3 linked regions of the Homo sapiens genome follow. The protein of the gene in region 2 purifies or fractionates together with the protein of the main gene of each other region. This does not show direct contact. Each region holds a gene or a part of one and is shown on either strand. Other genes may lie near its edges.

Region 1 (3,653 bases), on a different chromosome or scaffold from region 2:
ATAAAATTATAGAAAAATTATATAATAAAATTATAGAAATAATTATATAACAAAACCATAGAAATAATTATATTTCTATATTTCTTATAGGCAACTTAGGGGAGAGTAAACCACGTACACTATTCACTTAAGATATTTTGTGTGTGTGTGTGTGTGTGTGTGTGTGTGTGTGTATACACATATATGTATATATATATCCTGGGCTCAAGTGATCCTCCCTATAGGTGCACACCACTGCACCCGACTTAATGATTTTTGGGAAAAAAAAATCAATGGGCCCTCAGAAGAACAGGTGACAGCTAAGGCTGTCTTTCTGCATGTGATATAGACCTCCAGTCTCATCTCCTGTGATAGGAATTAATCTTCCCTGGTTCATAAGGTTAGCAGGGAAGGGATTCATGACAATAGAGTTCCTTCTTTTGTTTTTTTTTTCAGGCTGGAGTACAGTGGTGCAATCTTGGCTCACTGCAACCTCTGCCTCCCAGGTTCAAGCCATTCTTGTGCCTCAGCCTCCCGAGTAGCAGGGATTACGTGCGCCACCATGCCCGGCTAATTTTTGTATTTTTTAGTAGAGACAGGGTTTTGTCATGTCGGCCAGACTGGTCTCGAACTCCTGGCCTCAAGTGATCCGCCCACCTCAGCCTCCCAAAGTGCTGGGATTACAGGCGTGAGCCACAGCGCCCGGCCTAGAGTTCCTTTTGGAGGATGTGTCTTTAGGTAGATGAAGTAAGTTCAGAGACAGCCCTCCATCTGCTGCTCCCCAAGTGCCTTCAGTTTGAGATCCAATGCAGCATATTTTGGGGTGGCGTTTCCTGAACTTCTTCACAAGCTATACATCTTGCTACACATATCTATAACAAGAAAAACTACAATAAATATTCCAAAAAGTGGTATCCACAAAGTGCTAAAGGAACAAAGAATAAAAACAACATGCTGGGGAATCAGAAAGGCTTTATAGGGTTTGTAGCTCCTAGGATGCATGGGCCTGAAGGATGAGCAGGCTTTCTTTTCTCTGTATAGGATTTCAATGGATGACAGCATTAAAAGAAAAGTTTAAAGAAGGAACAAAGCAACGGAAGCCAGAAAATACTAGAAAAGTGAAGGATCACCAAAATCAAGGCTGCTTGCTTTAAACAGCCTTTTGGCAACACCCAATTTCCCTTGTCCAATTCTTTGCACATCAAGGACCCTTCTTATAGTAATTTGGTCTCTAGAGCAGAGCAGGAAGGGGCTCTATGCAGATCTCTGGATAGGTATACCTCCCACTGTAAATTAATAACCTTGCATGTGGATTTACAATTCAGTCTCCAGAGTTTGGTTAGAGAGAATCAGTCCCCTAGAGCCTGATTACCTCTGAAGTCATGAAAAAAGGAAAAAAAAAAAAAGGAGTTTCAGCCCTTAGAAAACTGAAGGAGGTCACACTATCTGAATCACTACTAATCAGGCAGGTTTTACCCACCTAGAGATCAAGAGCAAAAGATGATGCTTTCGCACCAGGGGCAGTAGGGATGGTACAGTGGAAAGGGCTTAAAAACCACCAACCTGTCAAAGGCAGTGGAAAACTGAGAAGCATCAACAGGTGTTGCATCCCCCAGGCCTTGTGGAAGCAAAGCCTATATAGAACCCACCCCAGCTGTTGCAAAGAAAATCACAATGGAAAATGCCATGTTTCTTACCCACCATTTTGAGTCTGCTGGTGGAAGGGGAACTAAATAAATAAACTACAAGTTGGAGAAGAGACCCAGGAAGCTGTGTATTTAAAAAAAAGGGAATGAACCCTTGGCAGGTGGGGAGTTAGTGAAGCAAGTCCCTTAGAAACAAATGGAAATTAATGGCCGGGCGTGGTGGCTCACGCCTGTAATCCCAGCACTTTGGGAGGCCAAGGCAGACAGATCACTTGCGGTCAGGAGTTCGAGACCAGCCTGGCCAACATGGTAAAACCCTGTCTCTATTAAAACTACAAAAATTAGCCAGGTGTGGTGGCAGGCACCTGTAATCCGAGTTACTTGCCTGTAATCCCAGCTACTCAAGAGGCTGAGGCAGGAGAATCACTTGAACCCGGGAGGTGGAGGTTGCAGCAAGCCGACAATGTGCCACTGCACTCCAGCCTGGGTGAAAGTGAGACTCCGTCTCAAAAAAAAAAAAAAAAAAAGAAATAGAACTATTAAAATTCACACACACACACACACACACACACACACAATCTTTTTTTAAAAAATCAACTATACAAAGTGCTTGAGTGTCTGAAAAACTCAACCATGGCTCAGTGTTTCAAAAACAGACCTGATGCTGTAAGGGGAGAGTTAAGATGATGAGTGTGCTTAGACGGGCTCACAATTAAACAGTATATAGTCTTAATGTCAAAAAGTACAATGTCATTTTTATTTAAAGTTCTCTAACCATACACAGAATCACAAAAACATATTCTATTTACATTAATAAATAGAGCATAAGTATCAAGGTATCACTCAGAGTTTCAACTTTTGGAATTGTAAGTAATGAAAGGACACAAACATTTTTAAAACCACAAACTCCCATTTCAACTAGGGCTGAAATTCTATGTTTGACCATAGGTAGCGAATTGTACACTGGAAATACGGTAAATATAGTACTATCCTGAACCTGACTATAATTATTACATTATTTAGAAACAAAATAGAGAGGTATTTTAGAGTCTACCTACCCCACCCTGAGACAGAGGAAAGGTTCGGTGGGGAGGTGTAAAAACAGAAGGCAGATACACTTTCACTCCTCCTGGAAGACTCTCAGATAGAAGAAACATAGTACTAGCCTAGACATTGCTACAATTATTACATTATCTCTAATCAAAGGAAAGGAGTATTTTAGAATCCGTCTTTCCTTGAAAGAGAGATGAAAGATTAAGGGATAAAAAAAAATAGGGCGGATATGCTTTCACTTCTCTGGTAACTTCTGGATACATGAGATAACTATGATACACATTCAAAACCAAGTGATACTACATGTACAGCATCATTTAATTACACCTACAGAAAGAAAAGAATGGTTTACCTAAAAAAATTAGTGTTGCCACAACTGGTCACTCAGCAGAAAACAAATTAGGTCCCTCATCTCACTTGCCAATTACAAAAATATTCCAGGCCAAGTGCAGTGGCTCATGCCTGTAATCCAAGCACTTTGGGAGGCCGAGCTGAGTGGATCACTTAAGGCCAGGGGTTTGAAACCAGCCTGGGCAAAACTGTGAGACCCAATCTCTTAAAAAAAAAAAAAAAAAAAAAAAGGTGGGGGGGGCACGGTGGCTCACACCTGTAATCCCAGCACTTTGGGAGGCTGAGATAGGCAGATCAGCTGAGGTCAGGAGTTCAAGACCAGCCTGGACAACATGGCGAAACCCTGTCTCTACTAAAAATACAAACATTAGCCGGGCATGGTGGCACACGCCTGTAATCACAACTACGCAGGAGACTAAGCCAGGAGAATCACTTGAACTCTGGAGGTGGAGGTTGCAGTGAGCCAAGACCGCACCACTGCACTCCAGCCTGGCTGACACAGTAAGACTGTGTCTAAAAAAAAAAAATAAATAAATACACCATGGAATACTATGCAGCCATAAAAAATGATGAGTTCATGTCCTTTGTAGGGACATGGATGAAATTGGAAATCATCATTCTCAG
Region 2 (3,653 bases):
CAAAACAAAAAAGAAACAAAAAGGAAGAATCACTGGATCAGGTGTCAAAAGAAATGGACTGGGCAGATCACCTGAGGTCAGGAGTTTGAGACCAGCCTGGTCAACATGGCAAAACCCTGTGTCTACTAAAAACACAAAAATTAGTTGGGCATGGTGCACTGTAGTCCCAGCTACCTGGAAGGCTGAGGCAGGAGAATCACTTGAACCCAGAGGTAGAGGTTGCAGTGAGCCAAGATTGCGCCACTGCACTCCAGCCTGGGTGACAAAGCAAGACTCCGTCTCAAAAAAAAAAAAAAAGAAATGCCTGGTTCTGTGTTAGTCACACCACAATGGCAGGCATTTGGGCAACTGCTGTAACTTCTCCAGGCTTCAGGTTTTTTCAGCTGTTAAATCTTTTTTTTTTTTGAGATGGACTTTCACTCTTGTCGCCCATGCTGGAGTGCAATGGAGATCTTGGCTCACTTGCAACCTCCGCCTCCTGGGTTCAAGTGATTCTCCTGCCTCAGCCTCCTGAGTTGCTGGGATTACAGGCGCTGCCATCACGCCCAGCTAATTTTTGTATTTTTAGTAGAGACGGGGTTTCACCATGTTGACCAGGCTGGTCTCGAACTCCTGACTTCAGGTAATCCGCCTGTAATCTGCCCACCTTGGCCTCCCAAAATGCTGAGATTACAGGCGTGAGCCACTGCGCCCAGCCTTCAGCTGTTAAACCTAAGAGTTGAGTCAATCCCTTTCTTTAAGTAATTCTTAAGGTCTTTTCCATTAATGTACTATAACCCTAATTTAATTACAGTGAATATGGAACTTGTTTAGGAAGTGGTACTAAAGGATTTTTTAAAATGAATAGAAAACATTAGAATATTTATAAGTACAAAAAGGAGAAATGGAAGAAAAAGGATAAAGTTTTCCAAACTCAGTCTCCATCTCTATCAAAAAAGCTATATCTGGGGCCAGGTGCGGTGGCTCACGCCTGTAATCCCAGCACTTTGGGAGGCTGAGGCGGGCGGATGGTCTGAGGTCAGTAGTTCAAGACCATCCTGGCCAACATGGTGAAACCCATCTCTACTAAAAATACAAAATTAGCTGGGCATGATGGCGCCCACCTGTAATCCCAGCTACATGGGAGGCTGAGGCAGGAGAATCGCTTGAACCAGGGAGGCGGAGGTTGCAGTGAGCCAAGATCGTGCCATTGCACTCCAGCCTGGGCAAAAAGAGCCAAATTCCATTTCAAAACAAAACAAAAAAAGCTATATCTGAAAAAAATGTATCTAGAAACTTCTCCACTAGTTAGGTACCTTTGCTCAAAATTGTTATTAAGTGCTCAGATGACTTAAATAAACAAACAAACCACAGGGCCCAGTCTATTAAGTAGATGCAGCACAATAAGGAAATAAATTTTATTAGCATCCATGAAATCTCACATTATTAAGCTCTTAGCATCTATCATGGCAGCAAAATAAATCAGCTTTTAGCCACACTTCAAAAAGTTTCCAGATTCTTAAACTATCTTGAGCAGGATCTAAATAGTGATACCATTGCTGATGCTTGGACATGCAGAACGGAGGAAAGCAGGAATTAACAGGTGTGATCACTCTAACTTCAAAAATAAAAAGTAGGTGCAGTTTTACCTTCTCTTTATCATTACAAAGTAAGCAATCAACTAAAGACCCTTCATTAATTTCTCTAAAATCCTGGTATTGTTCTATTCCATGATTCATAACTGGCTACAAAGTTTACTTAACATATGTTTCAGGTTTTACCACTTTTCTAATCCCTTGGCTACTGTATATACATTTTGGAAGTATCACTGATTGTATTTTCAAGTCCATCAATTCAACAGTTCATCATAGGTTCATTTAGTGAGGTATTAATAAAAGTTATTAATAGAAGCAGGGTTGGGCCAGGCACGGTGGCTGATGCTTATAATCCCAGTACTTTGGGAGGCTGAGGCAGGCAGATGGCTGGAGCTCAACAGCAGCCTGGACAACATGGCTAAACCCCATCTCTACCAAAAATACAAAAATTAGCCAGGTGTGGTGGGGTGTGCCTGTGGTCCCAGTCATTCTGGAGGCTGAGGTGGGATTGCTTGAGCCTGGGAGGTGGAGGTTGCAGTGAGCCGAGATCATGCCACTGCACTCCAACCTGGGTGGCAGAGTGAGGTCCCATCTCACAAATAAATAAATAAATATTTTTTTTTAAAAAAGAAGGGCTATCAGAACTTATTAGCTACCTAAGCAGAAAAAATAAAATTAAAGTTAAAAAGTTAAAAATAAGAACTTACTAACATCAGTGTTGCTAAAGTTGGTATACACCCCCTACTGCTAAATTTGACTGGCTTAAGAAAAAAAGAAGCAGTGGTGATGTCTCACTACTGTCCCACTTTATGGAACATGCATCTTGGCAAAGCTGGCTATAAAATACATGTCTACAAAGTGAATCACCGTTTACCCTCAATGAAAATCAGTGCTGCATCCCCTAGCTGAAAATCCCAAGTGTTCAGTTGAAAAGTTTTCCATTATAAGGACTAAGTAAAGCTGCTGGCCAGCTGTGCAGCAGGCAGGCTGGATCTGATATTAAGGTACACCAACCTGTGAAGACTGAAGTCTCCTGGGGTTCTCATTCCCCTCAGACCACATTAAGAATTTCCCCCCTTCTGGAATTTCCCAGATGTTGAACCAGCCACCAGAACCTCTCACCTGCCCTGGTGTCCACCATGCCCCGACTCTAAATGCATGCTTTCCAAAATTTGACTCCTTTCCTTTTCTTTGTAGGGGAGCATGTATATTTAATTGGGCAAGATGGGCACTTCACAATTCATCACCGTGTGCTCCTTTCTAGTTCACGGTGAACAAATAATCTAAAAATGCCTTCAGTTTAAAGCAGCAACAACCACAACCATGTGGTTCTCAAGGTTTAAAAAGTTTGTATATTGGGCAAAGGCTGTTGAGATGTTTATACATTTCCTGATTTCAAGAATATTCATGTCCTGGTTGCTTAACACATCGTTTCAGCTGTTTTTAATTAGGGCAAATCCCTTTATATTTCCCAATCATGAGCAGTTTAATAGTACTATTAATTCATTCAACACTTATTGAACAAATATTATAGATTGCCTACTGTGTGTCAGGCACTGTTCTAAGGTGCTGGAGAGCCAACAATAAACAAAGCAGGCCACCATCCCCATCAGGGAGAGGTTAGTTACACTGCAGGAAGGCAGACAACAATGAAGACAAATAAGTAACATATATAGTATATTAGGTGGCAGTAAGTGCTACAGGGAACAATAAAGAAGGAGAACAAGAAGTACTGAAGGTGGGGTGCAATTTTACATATTTTATAAAATTGTTTTGACAATACCATCAGGAAGTATTTGTCTTAATTTTCACTTCTTTTTAAAAAATTCTGACACATAAACATGAAAATGTGGACAGATAAGTAAGTTCCTCTTTACAGTTGCAGGTACCTCTTTTAACAGGTACTGACCGTCACCTTGAAGTCTAAAGGCGTGGTAAACTAAAAGCCAGGGAAGGTGAAATAGCCGGATAACAATGTGTCCAGAAAACCACACAGTTGCTCTGGTAATTTTCACAGGAACTAGATATAATACAACCATTTGCAAGAGACATTTCAAAATGATTTACTAAAATGAGTAT
Region 3 (3,653 bases), on a different chromosome or scaffold from region 2:
TCTGTGAGAGCAGACACAACCCTCCACCTCGTTCACACGTGCCGTTGCACCCAGCACCCCCCACAGGGACTTGCATCTGCCTGGCACTCAGTCAGTGCTCATGGGACGGATTTGAGACATCAGTGAAAGGGAGGCAACCTGGCACCTCCCAGGGCGGTGTGCAGGCAGACTCACCCATGACCTCCAGCTGCACATGCATGAAGCTCTCGGCCTCATCCTGGAGGGTGCTGTGGGCGCGCAATGGCACTGGCAAGAATCCGTACTCCTCCTTGTTGCACACATACATCTGAACCTCTGCAGTGGGCAGGGAAGCAACAGACAAATGTAAAAACAGGCGAGGCCCAGTGGCTCATGCCTTCCATCCCACGGCTTCAGGAGGCCAACGCAGGAGGATCGCTTGAGGTCAGGTGTCTGAGACCAGCCTGGGCAACAGAGCAAGACCTTATATCTACAAACAACTTTTTTTTTTTTTTAAGACAGAGTCTCACTCTCCCAGGCTGGAGTGCAGTGGCACTACCTTGGCTCACTGCAACCTCCGCCTCCCGGGTTCAAGTGATTCTCCTGCCTCAGCCTCCCTAGTAGCTGAGACTACAGGCACATGCCACCATGCCTGGCTAATTTTTTGTATTTGTAGAGACGGGGTTTCATCATGTTAGCCAGGATGGTCTCGATCTCCTGACCTCGCGATCCACCTGTCTTGGCCTCCTGAAGTGCTGGGATTACAGGTATGAGCCACCACGCCCGGCTCTACAAATAATTTTAAAATTAGCTGGGAATGGTGGTACCTGCCTATGGTCCCAGCTCCTCGGGAGGCTGTGGCAGGAGGATCACTTGAGCCCAGGAGACTTGAGGCTGCCATGAGCTATGATGGCACACTGCACTCCAGCTTAGGCAACAGGGCAAGGCCCTGTCTCAAAAACAAACCCAAAAAAAAAACAGTAAAAATGCATGTTGAGGCACAAAAAGGAAAGTTTGACAAAATGTGAGTTAAGTTACTTCCTTCTACATCTATCCTTTTCTGGATGGTTTAAATTTTGATGAGTGTGTATCTTTTTTTTTGAGACAGAGTCTCGTTCTGTCGCCCAGGCTGGAGTTCAGTGGTGCCACCTCGGCTCACTGCAACCTCCGCCTCTGGGGTTCAAGCAATTCTCCTGCCTCAGCCTCCCAAGTAGCTGGGATTACAGGCACCCGCCACCACACCCAGCTAATTTCTGTATTTTTTTTTAGTAGAGGTGGGGTTTCACCACGTTGGCCAGGCTGGTCTCGAAATCCTGACCTCAAGTGATCCACTGAGCCCAGCCAAGTGTGTATCTTTTTTAGACTAAAAAACTCAATGATGCTCTTTTAATTTAATTTATTTATTTTTTTTGAGACAGAGTCTCGCTCTGTCGCCCAGGCTGGATTGCAGTGGTGTGATCTCCGTTCACTGCCTCCTGGGTTCAAACAATTCTTGTGCCTCAGCCTCCCAAGTAGCTGGGACTACAGGCACCCACCACCATGCCCAGCCAATTTTTGTATTTTTAGCAGAGACGGGTTTCACCATGTTGGCCAGGCTGGCCTCAAACTCTTGACCTCATGTGATCCACCCACCTCACCCTCCCAAAGTGCTGGGATTACAGGCATGAGCCACTACACCCGGCCTCTTTTAATTTTAATTGGTCAATTTCTTCTATAAAGGGCCAGGTGGTAAGTATTTTAGGCTTGTGTGCCAGACGGTTTCTATCTCAATGACTCTGTTCTGCCTGTGGCACTTGAAAGCAGCTACAGACGACACTTAAATGAATGGGCTTGGCTGGGTACTGATGACACTTTATTGATGGGCAATGAAATCTGAATTTCATACAGTTTTCATGTGTCACAATATTCTTCTTCTTTTGATTCTTTTCCCCAGTGATTTAAAAATGTAAAAATTGGCCGGGTGTGGTGGCTCATGCCCGTAATCCCAGCATTTTGTGAGGCTGAGGCGGGTGAATCACCTGAGGTCAGGAGTTCGAGACCAGCCTGGCCAACAGGCAAAACCCCATCTCTACTAAAAATACAAAAATTAGCCAGGCGTGGTGGTGCACACCTGTAGTCCCAGCTACTAGGGAGGCTAAGGCAGGAGAATCAATTGAACCTGGGAGGTGGAGGTTGCAGTGAGCTGAGATCATGCCACTGTACTCCAGCCTGGGCAACGGAGGGAGACCCTGTGTCAAATAAATAAATAAATAATAAAAATGTAAAAATTGTTGGCCAGGCACCGTAGCTCACGTTTGTATTCCTAGCGCTTTGGGAGGCTGAGGTGGGAAGGATCACTTAAGGCCAGGAGTTCAAGTCTAGTCTGGGCAACATAGCAAGACCCCATCTCTACAAAAACATTTTTTTTTTCAATTAGCTGGGCATGTAGGCAGGTGCCTATAGCCCCAGCCAGTCTGGAGGCTGAGATGAGAGGATTGCTTGAGCCCAGGAGGTTGAGGCTGCAGTGAGCTACGATCACACCACTGCACTCCAGGCTGGGTGACAGAGTAAGACTGTGTCTCTAAAAAAATAAAAATAAAATATAAAAGTTGTTGTTAGCTTGTGGCCATATAAAAGTAATTAGTGGGGCCAGGCGCGGTGGCTCACGCCTGTAATCCCAGCACTCTGGGAGGCCGAGGTGGGCAGATCACAAGGTCAAGAGATCAAGACCATCCTGGCTAACACAGTGAAACCCCGTCTCTACTAAAAATACAAAAATTAGCCGGGCCTGGTGGCTGGTGCCTGTAGTCCCAGCTACGCGGAAAGCTGAGGCAGGAGAATGGCGTGAACCCAGGAGGCGGAGCTTACAGTGAGCCAAGATCGGGCCACTGCACTCCAGCCTGGGCGACAGAGCGAGACTCCGTCTCAAAAAAAAAAAAAAAAAAAAAGTAATTAGTGGGCCAGGTTTGGCCTGCAGGTCAGTTTGCCAACCTCTGGTTTCCAGTAAACAACAAGTCAACATGAGGCTGTGCTGTCTCTTTAAATATTTGTTTTCCCAATTAAACAATTAATATATGCTCAACTGTAGAAAATTAGGAGAATGGCCCAGGTGCAGTGGCTCCCTCCTGTAATCCCGGCACTTTGGGAGGCCGAGGTGGGCGGATCACCTGGGGTCAGGAGTTTGAGACCAGCCTGGCCAACCTGGGGAAACCCTGTCTCTACTATAAATATAAAAATGAGCCAGACATGGTGGCGTATGCCTGTAATCCCAGCTACTTGGGAGGCTGAGGCAGGAGAATCTCTTGAACCAGGAGGCAGAGGTTGCAGTGAGCCGAGATCGCACCACTGCACTCTAGCCTAGGTGACAGAGCAAGACTCTACTTCAAAAAAAAAAAACAAAAGAAAATTGGGAGAATATAGAAAAGTATGAAGATTGAAATAACATTTGGGGTTGATCATGGAAAATTGTGTAACGGGTTCAATGTATATTATTTGGGGATGGATGCCCTAAAATCTCTTGACTCACCACTTCACAATCTATGCACGTGACAAAATTACACTTGTGCTCCATAAATTTACACAAATTAAAAAATAATAGTAACATGCAATCAATAGGTATTTTTTTCTTGAGAAGGATTCTTACTTTGTTGCCCAGGCTGGAGTGCAGTGGCATGATCTCGGCTCACTGCAACTTCCGCCTCCCATATTCAAGTGAT

What was found.
Region 1: the proteins of CPNE3 (region 2) and KDM3B purify together in Homo sapiens (affinity purification with mass spectrometry; one large-scale study listed by BioGRID and IntAct). This does not show direct contact.
Region 3: the proteins of CPNE3 (region 2) and COLGALT1 fractionate together in Homo sapiens (co-fractionation; one large-scale study listed by BioGRID). This does not show direct contact.

What each region holds. Positions count from the first base shown.
Region 1 is NC_000005.10:138,359,072-138,362,724, reverse strand, and holds part of KDM3B (lysine-specific demethylase 3B), read right to left. Parts: intron 1-3,653. UniProt on the Homo sapiens protein: Histone demethylase that specifically demethylates 'Lys-9' of histone H3, thereby playing a central role in histone code. Demethylation of Lys residue generates formaldehyde and succinate. May have tumor suppressor activity.
Region 2 is NC_000008.11:86,517,307-86,520,959, reverse strand, and holds part of CPNE3 (copine-3), read right to left. Parts: intron 1-3,653. UniProt on the Homo sapiens protein: Calcium-dependent phospholipid-binding protein that plays a role in ERBB2-mediated tumor cell migration in response to growth factor heregulin stimulation.
Region 3 is NC_000019.10:17,569,124-17,572,776, reverse strand, and holds part of COLGALT1 (procollagen galactosyltransferase 1 precursor), read right to left. Parts: intron 807-3,653; exon of another isoform or gene 786-806; intron 295-785; coding exon 175-294; intron 1-174. UniProt on the Homo sapiens protein: Beta-galactosyltransferase that transfers beta-galactose to hydroxylysine residues of type I collagen. By acting on collagen glycosylation, facilitates the formation of collagen triple helix. Also involved in the biosynthesis of collagen type IV.